Regions from separate parts of the Homo sapiens genome. Here region 2 is linked to region 1. Evidence: fine-mapped expression QTL. A gene starts in region 1. The other region holds a variant in brackets. All regions are shown on one strand. Distances are from middle to middle.

Region 1 (8,323 bases):
GGTCTATCAAGGTGTACCTCTGAGGATAAGGGATAGGCTCCTGACATTTGGAAACTGGGAAGGGCCAGGTAGAGGGAGGAGGTGGTGGGGAGGTCAGGCAGTGTCAGGGGCTGGGAGAGGCGTGGCAGTCAGCGAAGTTGTATGCAATGGTGCCTCAGTTTCCTCCTCTTTAAAATGAATTTCCAGCTCCAAGAACAATCTAGGCTCTAGTATTCATTTTTAGTATCTTCCCTTTGTCTTTTTTTTTTTTTTTTTTTTTTTTTTTTTGTAGAGACAGGGTCTCACTATGTTGAGACCCTGGTCTTGAACTCCTGGGCTCAAGTGATCCTCCTGCCTTGGCCTCCCAAAGTCCTGGGATTATAGGCGTGAGCAACTGCACCTGCCTTAATTTCAGTTTTTGAGACAGGGTCTTATTCTGTTACCCAGGCTGGAGTGCAGTGGTGCAATCATGGCTCACTGCAGCATTGACTTCTTGGGCTCAAGTGATCCTCCCACCTTGGCCTCCTGAATAGCTGGGACTACAGGCACACGCTACCATGCCCGGCTAATTTTATTTCATTATTTTATTTTATTTTTTGAGGTGGAGTCTCACTGTGTCGCCCAGGCTGGAGTGCAGTGGTGCGATCTCAGCTCACTGCAACTTCCACCTCCTGGTGTGATCTCGGCTCACTGCAACCTCCACCTCCTGGGTTCAAGCGATTCTCCTGCCTCCGCCTCCGGAGTAGCTGAGAATATAGGTGCAAGCCACCATGCCCGGCTAATTTTTGTATTTTTAGTAGAGACGGGGTTTCACCATGTTGGCCAGGCTGGTCTTGAACTCCTGACCTCAGGTCATCTGCCTGCCTTGGCCTCCCAAAGTGCTGGGATGACAGGCGTGAGCCACCGTGCCCAGCAAATTTTATTTTTACTTTTGTAGGGTGTGTACGTGGGGGTCTTGCTATGCTGCCCAGGCTGGTCTCAAACTCCTGGCCTCAAGCAGTCCTCCTGCCTTGGCCTCCCAAAGTATTGGGATTACAGGCATGAGCCACTCTTCCCAGACCAGGCTTTTTAATTCCTTTCCCATCATTCCAAACACATCGATTGAGCACCTAGTGTGTGTTAGAGCCTCATTCTAGGTCTCTTTCTGTAAGGGACCACATAGGAAATCTTTGAAGAGTTCTTGTAATGCTGCCCTGTGGGGTAAGAGTAGCCACACTCAGTATGGAAATCAATGGATGTGACTGGCTTCCAACAAAATCCTATACATGGACACTGAAATTTGAGTTCCATATAATTTTTATGTCTACCTAAATATTACTTTCTTTTGATTTTTTAAAACCGTTTAAAAATGTAAAAGCCAGGCTGGGCGCGGTGGCTCACGCCTGTAATCCCAACACTTTAGGAGGCCGAGGCAGGCAGATCACGAGGTCAGGGGATTGAGGCCATCCTGGCTAACACGGTGAAACCCCATCTCTACTAAAAAATACAACAAAAAAATTAGCCAGGCGTGGTGGCGGGTGCCGTAGTCCCAGCTACTCGGGAGGCTGAGGCAGTAGAATGGCGTGAACCTGGGAGGCGGAGCTTGTAGTGAGCTGACATCATGCCACTACACTCCAGCCTGGGCGACAGAGCAAGACTCCGTCTCAAAAAAAAAAAAAGTAAAAGCCATTCGAAGCTTATGGACCATAGGGCCGAGGGTTGTGGATTGCCAATCTTTGTTCTAGGTGAACCAGACAGGCTCTGACCTCATGGAGCTGATGGCCAATTTGGGAAACTGAGTCTACAGAGAGGCACCCAGAAGAATATATAATTTCTTTCTTTTTTTTTTTTGGAGATGGAGTTTCACGCTTGTCGCCCAGGCTGGAGTGCAGTGGTGTGGTCTCGGCTCACTGCAACGTCCACCTCCTGGGTTCAAGAGATTCTGCTGCCTCAGCCTCCCGAGTAGCTGGGATTACAGGTGTCCACTAATTTTTTTGTATTTTTAATAGAGACAGGGTTTTGCCATGTTAGCCAGGCTGGTCTCAAACTGCTGACCTCAAGTGATCTGCCTGCCTTGGCCTTCCAAAGTGCTGGGATTACAGGCATGAGCCACCACACCCTGCTTTTTTGTTTTTTTTTTTTTTTGGACGGAGTTTCTCTCTTGTTGCCCAGGCTGGAGTGCAATGGTGCGATCTCAGCTCACTGCAACCTCCGCCTCCCGGGTTCAAGAGGTTCTCCTGCCTCAGTCTCCCAAGTAGCTGGGATTACAGGCATGAGCCACCGTGCCTGGCTAATTCTGTATTTTCAGTAGAGACGGGGTTTCTCCATGGTGGTCAGGCTGGTCTTGAACTCCCGATCTCAGGTGATCTGCCCACCTCGGCCTCCCAAAGTGCTGGGATTACAGGCATAAACCACCACACCCGGCCTTTTTTTTTTTTTTTTTTTGAGACGGAGTCTCGTTCTGTTGCCCTGGCTGGAATGCAGTGGTATGATCCCAGCTCCCTGCAACCTCTGCCTCCCGGGTTCAAGCGATTCTCCTGCCTCAGCAAAAGTAGCTGAGACCACAGGTGCCCGCCACCACGCCCGGGTCATTTTTGTATTTTTAGTAGAGAGGGGGTTTCACCATGTTGGCCACTCTGGTGTTTTGTTTTGTTTTGTTTTGATACAGGGTCTCACTCTTGTGTCCCAGGCTGGAGTGCAGTAGCCCCATCTCCGCTCACTGCAACATCTGCCTCCTGGGCTCAAGTGATCCTCTCAGCCTCCCGAGTAGCTGGGATTACAGGCATGTGCCACCACACCCATCTAATTTTTTGTATTTTTAGTAGAGATGGGGTTTCGCCATGTTATCTAGGCTGGTCTCGAACTCCTGAGCTCAAGCGGTCCACCTGCCTTGGCCTCCCAAGTACTGGGATTACCGGCAGGAGCTGCCGCACCTGGCCAGAACATACAATTTCAAGTTGTGGCTCAAGAGAAGGTACCTGGCTTGGTCTGAGGAGTCAGGAGAAGTCTCCCTGAGGAGCTGACGTCTGAATTGAAACGGAGAGGATGCTCAGGGGTTGGCCAAGGAGGCCAGAGAGGGAAAAGGGTTTTCAGTAGTCAGCAAGGTGGTGGGAACACACGTTTTTATAAATTCTGGTGGCCACTTCCATTTCATCTGCAAAGTAAGGATAAAGATATGGCTGGGTGAGGTGGCTCACATCTATAATCCCAGCGCTTTGGGAGGCCGAGGAGGGCAGATCACTAGAGGCCAGGAGTTTGAGACCAGCCTGGCCAACGTGGCGAAACCCGCTCTCTACTAAAAATACAAAATTAGCCAGGCATGGTGGCGCGCCTGTAATCCCAGCTACTTGGGAGGGTGAGGCAGGAGAATCACTAGAGCCTGTGAGGCAGAGGGTGCAATGAACCTAGATCACGCCCCTGCACTCCAGCCTGGGCGACAGAGCAAGACTCCATCTCAAAAAAAGAAGAAGAAAAAAAAGATATCCCTTGGGTAGGGTTAGCTTAACGGGCTTACAGCAGTGCCTGGTATCCTGTAGGCATTTCATGAATGCGTATACCTGGCCTGGAATGGTGCAGGCACTGCAGTAAGGCCTGATTGACACCTGATGGACAGCAGGCACTCCATTAATCTCTGGTCCGTGCCTGGCATATAGAATGTGTCCCATTAATGCCTGATACACAGTAGGTGTCCCATTAACGCTTTTTAATTTTTTTTTTTGAGACAGAGTCTCGCTCTGTCGCCCAGGCTGGAGTGCAGTGGCATGATCTCAGCTCACTGCAAGTTCCGTCTCCCGGGTTCACGCCATTCTCCTGCCTCAGCCTCCCGAGTAGCTGGGACTACAGGCGCCCGCCACCACGCCCGGCTAATTTTTTGTATTTTTAGTAGAGACGGGGTTTCACCGTGTCAGCCAGGATAGTCTCGATCTCCTGACCTCGTGATCCACCCGCCTCGGCCTCCCAAAGTGCTGGGATTACAGGCGTGAGCCACCGCGCCCGGCCCTCTTTTTTTTTTTTTTTCTTTGGAGACGGAGTTTCGTTCTTGTTGCCCAGGCTGGAGTGCAATGGCGTGATCTCGGCTCACTGCAACCTCCGCCTCCTGGGTTCAAGTGATTCTCCTGCCTCAGCCTCCCGAGTAGCTGGGATTACGGGCGTGCACCACCACGCCGGGCTAATTTTGTAGTTTTAGTAGAGACGGCGTTTCTCCCTGTTGGTCAGGCTGGTCTCGAACTCCAGACCTCAGGTGATCCGCCCGCCTCGGCCTTCCAAAGTGCTGGGATTACAGGCGTGAGCCACCGCGCCCGACCTCCATTAACGCTTTTTAATGGATGAGTGAAGGTTCCTGTCAGGCAATGTCAGGGCGCTTCCCGGGGGCAGCGACTGCTGCCCAGGCACCTGGAGACCCAGAGAGCGCAGCGGCCGCGTGCGCGCCTCCGCCACCGCGCCTGGGCCGAGCCGAGCGGGACCGAGCGGGGCCGAACGGAGCCGAGCGGAGCCGAGCCTGGCCGGGCCGAGTCCGCCACATTCCCACAATCCCGGGCGGCCCCGCCCCGGCTCCCGGCTGCGCGTCCCCCTTCCCACGTCGGCGCAACCAAACCCGCGGGCCCCCCGCCCTCGCCCCGCCCCGCCCCTTTCGCGCCCGCCGACGCCCCGCCCAGGCCGCTAGTCCCGCCCCCATGGTGGGCGCGCTTGGCCGCCGGCCCCTCCCATTGGCCGCACCGTCTGCCCGTCGCGGGCTGCGCTCCCAGCCTGCTAGGTTGTCCGGCGCTGTCGCTCGGTTGCGGCGGCTGCGGTTGGCGGTGGCTGCGGCGGCGGCGCGGGCTGAGTGCGGCCGCGCGGGAGTCCGCGGCTGGCGCGGCCCGAGCGGGGACCCGGCGGCTCGCCAGGCGGCGGCCGAGGCGGGGCGGGCCGGCCCGGGGCCGAGGGCCGGTGGCCGAGGCCGGAGGGCCGCGGCGGGCGGCGGCCGAGGCGGCTCCGGCCAGGGCCGGGCCGGGGGCCGGGGGGCGGCGGCGGGCAGGCGGCCGCGTCGGCCGGGGCCGGGACGATGACTCTGGAGTCCATGATGGCGTGTTGCCTGAGCGATGAGGTGAAGGAGTCCAAGCGGATCAACGCCGAGATCGAGAAGCAGCTGCGGCGGGACAAGCGCGACGCCCGGCGCGAGCTCAAGCTGCTGCTGCTCGGTGAGTGCGGCCCCCGGGCCTGCCGGCTGCGGGCCCTGCCCTGCCTGTGCCTGCCCTGCCTGTCCGGGTCGGGCCGGGACCCTCCGGGGTCAGCCCTGCCTGTGCCGTCCGGGTCGCGAGACCCTCCGGGGTCAGCCCTGCCTGTGCCTTCCCTGCCTGTCCGGGTCGCGGGACCCTCGAGTGTCAGCCCTGCCTGTGCCTTCACTGCCTGTCCGGGTCGGGGCGGGGCCCTCCGGGATCAGCCCTGCCTGTGTCGTCTGGGTCGGCTCGGGACCCTCTGGGGTCAGCCCTGCCTTTGCTGTCTAGGTCGGCACCTGGGACCCTCCGGGGTCAGCTGCGGGCCCCTGATTTCTTTGGGGTCAGCCCCTGCCTTAACTGTTCATGTTGGCACCTGGGACTCTCCGGTGTCAGCCTGTGTCTGTCCTGTCTGGATCAGGCCCCCGATCACTCCTAGGTCAGCTCCCAGCTTCTGCTGTCTACATTGGGCCTCCAGGACTCTTCAGGATTTGCCCTCTGTTCCTTCTCAAGGGACCAGTCCCTCCCTGCACAGGGACCTTCTGACCTTACCCCACCGGAGTACCCACCCCTCGCTACCCCTTCAGGGCCAGACCTTTGGGCTGTAACCCACAGGGCACACTCACCCCTCACTGCTCAGGGCCCCGCGTTGACCCTTCCCTCCAGGCAGAGCCCTGTACACTCCATGCAGGCCCTGTACCCTCCATGCAGGCCCTGTACACCCCCCCATCCCCCCGAAGACTCCTCCGTGTCCCCTATCCCCACATTCCCTTCAGGGCCATTCTCCTGCCTTCCTGTTCCGGGAAACCCCGTACTCCTCTTGGCTGGAATGCACCCTGTGGGAAAAAGACAGTCTTTCCTCTCCTCAGGGTTCCGCTCAGCTGAGGGTGGGGCGGTTGACACCTGAGGGAGCCTTTGCTTGTTGTCCCAAGCAGCTATCTCGGCAGCCTCCCCCGCCCCCTTCCTTAGAGTCCTGGTGGGAGCCACGCTGAGTCCTCGTTGAGAGCAGCCCCCCACCTGCCGGCTCCTCCCCACCGTCCTGGAGAAGGTTTGCTGGTGAACCTCCTTCTCCCCAAGGCACACCTGCTGCAGGGAGCCAGTCGGGCCAGCTGTAAAGTGTTGTCACTCCAAATAAGGGCCCCTTCAGTGGTTTACAAAACAGAAGCTCTTGCCCTGCCCCGCCCCTGCCCTCCCGAGCTCCTAGGTTAGCTCCTGGGCCGGGGGCGGGGCGGTGGGGAAGGTCGGAAATGCGTGAGAGGCAGCGGTGACGGAGGAGGGGGCGTGCTGGTGGCGGTGGCTCTTGGGGAGGAGGCAGGTCGCATGTTGTGTGGGGAACACGTTGCCTCTCCTGCCGTGAGCCTCTTAGGGCCCTCCGTGTCCCGGGTTACAGAGGTGCCTTGGATGAAACGCCTTCCTGATTTTTTTCCCCAAACTTGTGTTTTGATTTACCTAAGGGTTCTAAAATGGGCCATCTTTCCAGGGGGCCGCGGGTAGGCAGAGCCGTGGTCCTCACGTTTGGAGGAAATGTGCAGTGCGGCCCGCGTGGTGGCACTTTGCACAGAGTGGCACTGGCTGGCTTTTGTAGTGGGTCGTGGACTTTGTTTGGATGGAGGGGAGTTAGGAATTACTGGTGTCATAAAGATCTTACCAGATGGCCTTGCCCTGTGGCTCTGTGACCTCCAGAACCCCCGCCGCCATCCCTGCATGCACCCGGTCTTCTGTGCCTGCACTTTGGACTTGAGATTGACACGGGGTTCAAGGACGAAGGTCAGGGGCTCCCGTGTCTGCCGCCTTGGCTGCTTGGAGCAAGTCTGGAAGTGATGCGGCCCTTCCCGCATCCTCTGTCCAGTGCCCGCCTGTGGCCCGGGGGTGTCTGCTGCAGGAGCACCTGTGTCTGCAGTCCCACCCCCTCCCACTCTGTGAGCCTGAAAGTTGACCCCTATCAGCCTGTAAGACGGGAGGTTGCTGTCAGGCTCAGGGCCAGGCGTGGCAGATAGGACAGTGAGGAAGATGTGAGCTCACGTGCGACCCAAGGAGGACTGGTGTCAGTGCCACGCAGAGAGCCGGGGCTGTCAGGGGGTTGGGAGGGCTTCACACCCAAGGTGTTGGAGCCAGGGACCCCTTTGGGAATCTGATGCGACAGACCCTCAGAAAACTTCCCGTCCAAGCAACCTTGCATCCCAGCTGGAGGGCCCCTTGCTGGGAGGACTTTGACCACCTGAGGTCCAGGGGCTGGGGCCTCAGGGTGCAGGGGAGGGGACCTCTGTCAGGCTCCCTGCCTGCTTGTGGGAACTCATTCCACTCTCCCAGTAGGCCAGCCCCGAGCTTGCGATTGCCCCCGTTTTTCAGGGAGCAGCTAGAGGGTGGGGCCGAGGCTCCCCGGAAGGAAGGGGCTGTTGGGCTGCAGCAGGTGGCTATGGCGCCTGCGGCCCACGGAATGTTCAGAGACCTCTGGGTGGAGGTCCTGGCACTCCGCAGGAGGCCCAGCCAAGCTGGGTCTGCCTCTCCCTAGAATTCTTTCCTCCCCTGCCCCTTAGCAGTGGGGGCTCCATCCCTCCTCCCCCATGGCTCCCGTACAGCGTTGTGGAGTGGATGTCGGGGAGGGAGGCAGGGGCCTGCCACCACACCCCTGTGGCATCTGGGGCCCAGGAGGGTCTCGTTTATGTGGGTGGTGCTGGTTTCTTCCAGGCTCTGGGGCAGCAGGGCTCCAGGGCCCTGCCCTGACTCCTGGGTTTGCAACCAGGTGGAGCATGTTCTGGAAGAACGCCGCGTCTGCTCGCTCTCATCCACTGCCTCCCTGGGGCTGCACACGGCCTGTGAGGTCGGTCAGCCTGGCGAGGACATTCCGTGCCCCGTTTTCGGGGTGGGGGGGACCTTACGGAGCCCTAGAGCTGGACGGGGCTCCGGCTGCCGTGCCGCCTCTCCCGCGGCGGCTAAAATGTGCTGTTCACGCCTCAGATGGGCCTCTCCGTTACGTACAACAGGTCTCCCCGGGGCCCTGTGCACATTGGTCCGGGTTGGTCTCTGGGGTGGGGCTGCCCTGGGCACTGCAGGGTGCTGAGCAGTGTCCGAGGCCTCCACCCACTCCATGCCAGGAGCTCCCCCAAGTCGTGATAACCACAGATGTCTCTAGACAGTGCCCATTGTCCCTTGGGGGGCACGTTGCCCCCATT
Region 2 (8,323 bases), 100 kb before region 1:
GGAGTTCGAGACCAGCCTGGCCAACATGGAGAAACCCCATTTCTACTAAAAATACAAAATTAGCTGGGCATGGTGGCGGGTGCCTGTAATCCCAGCTACTTGGGAGCCTGAGGCAGGAGAATTGCTTTAACCCAGGAGGCAGAGGTTACAGTGAGCAGAGGTGGTGCCATTGCACTCCAGCCTGGGCGACAGAGCAAGACTGTCTCAAAAGAGAAAAAAAAATTACCACTGACTTGTTTCTATCAATTCTCCCCAGCAGGTAACCCTCAGTTTCTTAGTATCTTTCCAAAGTTTAAGCAAATTAAAACGTCTTCCTCACCTAGGGAGACCTAGGTATGCTGTTTTGCTGCTTGAAGCCTTTTTTTTTTTTTTTTTTTTTGAGACAAGTCTCGCTCTGTCACCCAGGCTGGAGTGCGGTGGCATCATCTCGCATCTGGGCTCACTGCAAGCTCCGCCTCCTGGGTTCAAGCCATTCTCCTGCCTCAGCCTCCCGAGTAGCTGGGACTACAGGCACCTGCCACCATGCCTGGCTAATTTTTTTTTTTTTTTTTGTATTTTTAGTAGAGATGGAGTTTCACCATGTTAGCCAGGATGGTCTCAATCTCCTGACCTCATGATCCGCCCGCCTCGGCCTCCCAGAGTGCTGGGATTACAGGCGTGAGCCACCGCACCCGGCCTGCTTGAAGTCATTTGAAGCAAAGTGTGGTGGTGGTCAGGTTTTCTTTTTAAAACATCCCAAAAAGAGTAGCTGGGGCCAGGTGTGGTGGCTCACACCTGTAATCCCAGCACTTTGGGAGGCCAAGGCAGGAGAATCATCTTAGGTCAAGAGTTCAAGACCAGCCCGGCCAACATGGTGAAACCCTGTCTCCACCAAAAATACAAAAATCAGTCTGTGTAGTGGCACACGCCTGTAATCCAGCTACTTGGGAGGCTGAGGCAGGAGAATTGCTTGAACCCAGGAGGCGGAGGTTGCAGTGAGCCGAGATCACATCACTGCACTCCTGCCTGGGCCACAGCGTGAGACTGTCTCAAAAAAAAAAAAAAAAAAAAAAAAAAAAAAAAAAAAAAAGATATATGCCAGGTGCGATAGGCCGGATGCGGTGGCTTAAACCTGTTATCCCAGCACTTTGGGAGGCACACGTGGGAGGATAGTTTGAGGCCAGGAATTCAAGACCAGCCTGGCCAACATAATGAGACTCCCATTTCTACAAAAAGTGTATTTAAATTAGCTGAGCGTGGTGGTGCATACCTGTAACCCCAGCTACTCAGGAGGCTGAGATGGGAGGATCACTTGAGCCTGGGAGGTTGAGGGTGCAGTGAGCTGTAATCGCACCACTGCACTCCAGCCTGGGTGTCAGAGTGAGATCTTATCTGCAAAAAAGTAGATGAAGGCTGGGGGTGGTGGCTTATGCCTATAATCCCAGCACTTTGGGAGGCTGAGGTGGGCAGATCACCTGAGGTCAGGAGTTGGAGACCAGCCTGGCCAACATGGTGAAACCCCATCTTTACTAAAAATACAAAAATTAGCTGGGTGTGGTGGTGTGCACCTGTAATCCCAGCTACTCAGGAGGCTGAGGCAGGAGAACCACTTGAACCTGGGAGGCGGAGGTTGCAGTGAGCCGAGATTGCACCACTGCACTCCAGCTTGGGTGACAGAGTGAGACTCTGTCTCAAAAAAACAAGTAGATTGATATACCTTCTTCTACAGGTGGGGATAATCATGCTGTAGGATTGCAAACCCTTAACTGCAACAACATTTAACTGTTTTGCTGCCAACCTCCTTCTAGATAGGAAACGTCTTACAGATTGTGGAGAGCTGCAGCCAACTCCAGGGTTTCCAGTCTGAGGAGGTGAGTTTCTGGGTCTTCAAGGAGGGGAGGGGACAGGCTTGGGTGAAGGCTCATCCTCAAAGCTCTCACTGCCTTGTTCCTGCCGGGCCAGGTCTCACCTGCTGAACCAGCCAGCCCTGGGACGCCCCAGCAGGTGAAGGACAAGACCCTGCAGGAGTCGAGCTTTGAGGACATCATGGCCACCAGGTCCTCCGACTGGCTCCGGCGGCCTTTGGGGGAGGACAATCAGCCGGAGACCCAGCTGTTCTGGGACAAGGAGCCTTGGTTTTGGCACGACACTCTGACCGAGCAACTCTGGCGGATTTTTGCCGGCGTCCACGATGAGAAGGCAAAGCCCAGAGACAGACGTGAGTGTCCCTGAGGGTGAGGGGGAAGGGGCAGCCACAGGCTGCGTCTCAGGGGCTGTGCAGTGAACCCTGCTGTTCTCTCTGTCCCCCTCCTCCTCTCCGTTGTCATGGTGACAGAGCAGGCACCAGGCCTGGTGAGTAAACAACCTCAGCTCTATCCAGAGGGGTGGGCTTCCGGGCAGGCGGTTGGGCTCCCCCAGGTCAGGGCACTGGGGTTCCTGTGGGATTTGTCTTCCTTCCATCCTGCCCCTCGGGTCCCCCGGGGGGGACTTGGGTGATCCAGGAGGCTATACTGGAGTAGCCCAGGACCCACAGCCCAGGGCTTCCAGGACCCTATACCCTGACTCTCTCTCTGCAACTCTGCCTGGACCCGCAGACAGGACCCCAGGCAGCTGACAAGCCCTGTGCAAGCTGCCCAGGAATCCGAGGTCTTCTGGTCCTAACAGGCAGGTCAGCAGGCCTGATGAGACTTTTCCATTTTCCAGGGGCAGGAAAGCAAGGCACCAGGATCCTGTGACCCAGGAACAGACCCATGTCCTGAAGATGCCTCCAGTAATCCCAGCGGGCAGGGGCCGACCGACTCCAGGCGGGATGGGGTGGGGGCATCCTGTGCTGAGGAGCCAATGCAAGCCGCTTAGCCCCTCTTGTCTCCCCACTAGCCCCCAGGCCACCTGAGGCCTCCTCCAGTCCCCCTGAGGGTTCCCAAGACAGGAACACAAGTTGGGGTGTGGTCCAGGTGAGACCCAGGCCCGAGCTGGTAGCCCAGCGTGAAGGCTGCCCAGGGTGGGGTAGAGGAGGTGGGCACAGATGTGCGGGGAGGCTGGGGGCAGCTGTGATCTCCCCCGCCTGCAGGAGCCTCCTGGAAGAGCCTCTCGGTTTCTACAGTCCATGTAAGTGTCTGCACTGTTTGCTTTTGGGCGGGGTGAGGGGCAGCGGGAATTCCTTCCTGTCTATACCTCTGTTCCCGACACATAGAGGGGAACAGAGGTGTAAGACTTTCTTCCCCTTTTCCCATCACTACTCTGCCATCCTCTCCAACAGCCGCTGCAGAGGCTGGGTAGAAAAGTGCAGTGTTAGGCCGGGCGCGGTGGCTCACGCCTGTAATCCCAGCACTTTGGGAGGCCGAGGCGGGCAGATCACGAGGTCAGGAGATTGAGAACATCCTGGGTAACACGGTGAAACCCCGTCTCTACTAAAAATACAAAAAAAATTAGCCAGGCGTGGTGGTGGGTGCCTTTAGTCCCAGCTACTCGGGAGGCTGAGGCAGGAGAATGG[C/T]GTGAACCCGGGAGGTGGAGGTTGCAGTGAGTTGAGATCGCGCCACTGCACTCCAGCCTGAGTGACAGCAAGACTCCGTCTCAAAAAAAAAGTGCAGTGTTAGGCTCACAGGATCGCCGCCCCAACACTGGGCTCAAGGCATTTGGGGAAGACTTTTTCATGGAAGGGGATGGGGTGTAGCTGTGTTAGAACTGGATGCAGATTGTCCCAACCTTGTGGAGTGATGCTGGGAGAACCCAGGTGGGGCAAAGAAGGCTTTTCTGGGGAAGGAGCATAATAGCTAGGACCATAAAGGATGAATAGGAGTTCTTCCTCCTGGGGCAAAGCAGTCTAGGAAGAAGGCAGAAGTATGTGGAGGGCTGTGGCAAAGGGACAATACTTGAAGGAATATGAGCAGGACATTGAGGGGAGTCTAGAGGGTAAAACAAGGCCTGAGAGAGGGACCCCAAAATCTGAAAAAGAAGCCCCTCTAGGCCTTGATGTGTGGCTCCCACTGGGCAAAGGGGCTCACAAGCAGGTCAGTTACCCCAAGGCCTCCCCTCCCAAGATCCTGGGACCCTGAGGACTTTGAAGATGCATGGAAGAGGCCAGATGCCTTGCCCGGGCAGTCAAAGAGACTCGCCGTCCCGTGCAAACTGGAAAAGATGCGGATCTTGGCACACGGGGAGCTCGTGCTCGCCACGGCCATCAGCAGCTTCACGCGGCACGTGTTCACCTGTGGCAGAAGAGGCATCAAGGTGTGGAGCCTGACTGGACAGGTGGCTGAGGACAGGTTCCCTGAGAGCCACCTGCCTATACAGGTGAGGACGGCCTTGGTTTCCAGGGATGCAGGGCTTCTGGGAACAGGGGGTTTGAGGTTTGAGTCTGGCAGAGCCCAGATCGTGGAGAGAGGGCTTCCAGGGAAAAGGGGCATAATAGCTAGGAACCTAAAGGATGAATAGGAGTTCGCTCTCATGAGGCAAAGCAGTCCAGGCAGAATGCCACGGGGGGCGACAGCTCACAGTGACTCTGCCCATCCCAGACCCCTGGGGCCTTCCTGCGCACCTGCCTGCTGTCCTCAAACAGCAGGAGCCTGCTCACCGGTGGCTACAACCTGGCCAGCGTGAGCGTGTGGGACCTGGCGGCGCCCTCCCTGCATGTGAAGGAGCAGTTGCCCTGTGCAGGTCTCAACTGCCAGGCCCTGGATGCCAACCTGGATGCCAACCTGGCCTTCGCCAGCTTCACCAGTGGTGTGGTCAGGATCTGGGACCTGCGGGATCAGAGTGTGGTCAGGTGCGTTTGGGGGGTGGGAAGGGGAAGCATCCTGTGCCAGCCTCCTGTGGCCACCTCTGCCCACCTTACTGCTACCACCTCTGCCCGCCTTCCTGCCACCTCCTGAACCTGGGATATAGCACTCTCCCAGCCAAAACCCCTTGCCCCCTTGAACTTGGATTTGAGAAAGTTTAGAGGTGCGGACTTGAATCTTGGCTGGACTGCGTTCCTTGCAGCCCAGGGCATTTTACTTTTTGTCTGCCTCAGTTTCCCCACCTGGACACAGGATGTGACAGCCCCAAACTCAAAGGCTTGTTAGAGGGCAAATTTGTTGTAAAAATATAAAACAGCAGGCCAGGCCTGGTGCCTCAAACATGTAAACCCAGCACTTTGGGAGGTCAAGACGGGACAAATGCTTAAGCCCAGGAATTCGAGATTAACCTGGGTAATGAATAAAACGAATTTATTCTATTTTTATTAAATAGAATAAATTTTATTTAATAAAAATTAAATAGAATTTTTATATAGTCTATTTAAAAATATGTATATATAAATTGGCCGGGCGCAGTGGCTCACGCCTGTACTCCCAGCAGTTAGGGAGGCCGAGGCAGGCAGATCCACGAGGTCAGGAGATCAAGACCATTCTAGCTGACACGGTGAAACCCTGTCTCTACTAAAACTACAAAAAAATTAGCCAGGCGCGGTGGTGGGTACCTGTAGTCCCAGCTACTCGGGAGGCTGAGGCAGGAGAATCCCTTGAACCCGGGAGGCGGAGCTTGCGGTGAGCCGAGATCTGTGCCACTGCGTTCCCAGCCTGGGCGACAGAGCAAGACTCTGTCTCAAAAAAGAAAAAAAAATACACACATATATAAATAAATATATATATAAATACATAAATATATACATAAATATATACATAAATATATACATAAATATATACATATATAAAAAACAGTCTGGGTGCGGTGTCTCACACCTGTAATCCCAGCACTTTGGGAGGCCGAGGTGGGTGGATCACTTGAGGCCAGGAGCTCAAGACCAGCCTGGCCAACATGGCGAAACCCCCTCTCTACTAAAAAATATGAAAATTAGCCGGCGTGGTGGCACATGCCTGTAATCCCAGCTACCCCGGAGGCTGAGGCAGGAGAATCGCTTGAGAAGCGGAGTTTGTGGTGAGCCAAGATGGTGCCACTGCACTCCAGCCTGGGTCACAGAGTGAGACTCTGACTCAAAAAAAAATTTTACATACATACATACATACATACATACATACATACATATATGTATACACACACACATATTAAATATATGTAAATAGGCTGGGCATGGTGGCTCATGCCTGTAATCCCAGCACTTTGGGAAGCCGAGGCGGGCAGATCACCTGAGGTCGGGAGTTTGAGACCAGGCTAACATGGAGATACCCCATCTCTACTAAAAATACAAAATTAGTCAGGCGTGGTGGCCCATGCCTGTAATGCCAGCTACTCGGGAGGCTGAGGCAGGAGAATCGCTTGAACCCAGGAGGCAGAGGTTGCAGTGAGCTGAGATCGTGCTGCTGCACTCCAGCCTGGGCAACAAAACGAGACTCCATTTCAAAAAAAAAAAAAATACGTATATATATATATATATATACACACACACACACACACACACACACACACATATATATAATATATGTATTTATAACATATAAGATATCTATCAGCATATGTTTGCAGGAAGCAATGGCTGACGTAAAATACAGCACACCACCCGCCCGGCACTATTCCCCTTCCCTGCTTGAAGGGATTCCTGTAGACCTGCCTCAGAGCTCGGGTGGACTCAGGGTGGAAGAGGCAAGGGGAGGCCTAGGTGAGGCCAAGGGGAGGCCCAGGCGGACGGAGAAGGGAGGCTGAGGGCTGGGAGGGGCCGGCACTAGATCCTGTGTCTGTTTTCTGCCAACTTTGACACTCTGTGCAGGCAGAGATTTTTGGGTGGTGGCACTGTCCCTTTCATGCCCAAATGTAGTGACTGGTGTTTCCGGGGGCCCAAACCTCAGAGTCTTGACCTGATTGCCTCCCGATGTCCCTTCTGGCCAGGGACCTCAAGGGTTATCCTGATGGAGTCAAGAGTATCGTGGTCAAGGGCTACAACATCTGGACTGGGGGTCCGGATGCCTGTCTGCGGTGCTGGGACCAGAGGACCATCATGAAACCTCTGGAGTACCAATTCAAGTCTCAGGTGCGGAGGCCGGGATGGGGTCTGCTTGGCCAGGCATCCTCTGGTCCTCAGATTAAAAAATGAGGTTGAGGCCGGGCTCCGTGGCTCACGCCTATAATCCTAGCACTTTGGGAGGCCAAGGTGGGTGGATCACCTGAGGTCAGGAGTTTGAGACCAGCGTGGCCAACATAGTGAAACCCCATCTCCACTAAAAATACAAAAATCAGAGCTGGGCGCAGAGGCTCACACCTGTAATCCCAGCACTTTTGGAGGCCGAGGAGGGCAAATCACCTGAGGTCGGGAGTTCAAGACGAGCCTGACCAACATGGTGAAACCCCGTCTCTACTAAAAATACAAAATTGGCCAGGCATGGTGGCACATGCCTATAATCCCAGCTAGTCGGGAGGCTGAGGCAGGAGAATCGCTTAAACCCGGGAGGTGGAGGTTGTGGTGAGCCGAGATCGTGCCATTGCACTCCAGGCTGCGCAATAAGAGCGAAACTCTGTCTCAAAAACAAATGAGGTTGGCCAGGCACAGTGGCGTATGCCTGCAATCCCACCACTTTGGGAGGCAGAAGTGGGAGGAAGACTTGAGCCCAGGAGTTTGAGACCAGCCTGGGCAACATAGTGAGACCCTGTTTCTACAAAAAATAAAAATAAAAATTAGCTGAGCATGGTGGCACGTACCTGGGGTCGCAGCTAGTTGGGAGGCTGAGGTGAGAGAATGGCTTGAGCCCGGGGAGGCTGAGGCCACAGTGAACTGTGATCATACCAGTGACTGTAGTCCAGCCTGGGTGACAGAGTGAGACCCTGTCTCAAAAAAAAAAAAAAGGGGGGGAGGCGGGTGGGGGGGGGGGAGGATGAACTCTGGGAAGGAAAAAAGGTAGTGGTTCTAAGTCTCACTGATGCTCCAAACACAGAGATCATTAGAAATATTCTTTGCAGGCCGGGCGCAGTGTCTCACGCCTGTAATCCCAGCCCTTTGGGAGGCCAAGGCGGGTGGATCATTTGAGGTCAGAAGTTCAAGAACAGCCTGACCAACATGGTGAAACCCCGTCTCTACTAAAAAAAAAAAAAAAAAAAAAAAAAAACAGAATAATTAGCCAGGCATGGTGGCGCATGCCTGTAGTCCCAGCTACTCAAGAGGCTGAGGCGGGAGAATCGCTTAAACCCCAGGAGGCAGACGTTGTCGTAAGCCGAGATCGTACCATTGTACTCCAGCCCGGCAACAGAGCGAGACTCCGTCTCAAAATAAACACTCATGCTGTATCAGGTGCAAAGTAGGGAAGACTCTCCATTTTACACACCAACAAACTGAGGCACAGATACGAAGTTGCTTGTCCCAGGGCTGCACAGCTAGGAAGGGGTCAGTCACCCGGCCTCCAGGATAGGTCCCCAGGCT

The links. PIP is the estimated chance that this variant, and not a neighbour inherited with it, causes the effect. A credible set is the group of variants that fine-mapping cannot tell apart.
Region 2: its variant is the best candidate, but not a certain one, in a credible set for the expression of GNA11 in whole blood (INTERVAL, PIP 0.59).

Annotation. Positions count from the first base shown.
Region 1 is chr19:3,089,653-3,097,975 of GRCh38, forward strand. It overlaps GNA11 (G protein subunit alpha 11), which reads left to right and starts at 4,710. Exons shown (of 7, transcript NM_002067.5): 1 at 4,710-5,135. The coding sequence starts at 5,000. RefSeq lists silencers at 4,379-4,628, 4,649-4,768, 5,089-5,218, 6,373-6,462 and enhancers at 4,515-5,502, 5,503-6,488, 6,489-7,476.
Region 2 is chr19:2,985,042-2,993,364 of GRCh38, forward strand. It overlaps TLE6 (TLE family member 6, subcortical maternal complex member), which reads left to right. Exons shown (of 17, transcript NM_001143986.2): 6 at 1,788-1,850; 7 at 1,942-2,197; 8 at 2,315-2,331; 9 at 2,683-2,749; 10 at 2,857-2,933; 11 at 3,050-3,087; 12 at 4,020-4,272; 13 at 4,494-4,744; 14 at 6,802-6,943. Among named protein-coding and RNA genes, the nearest start is that of TLE6, 12 kb to the left of the region's middle. The variant C/T (reference allele first, on the strand shown) is at 3,473.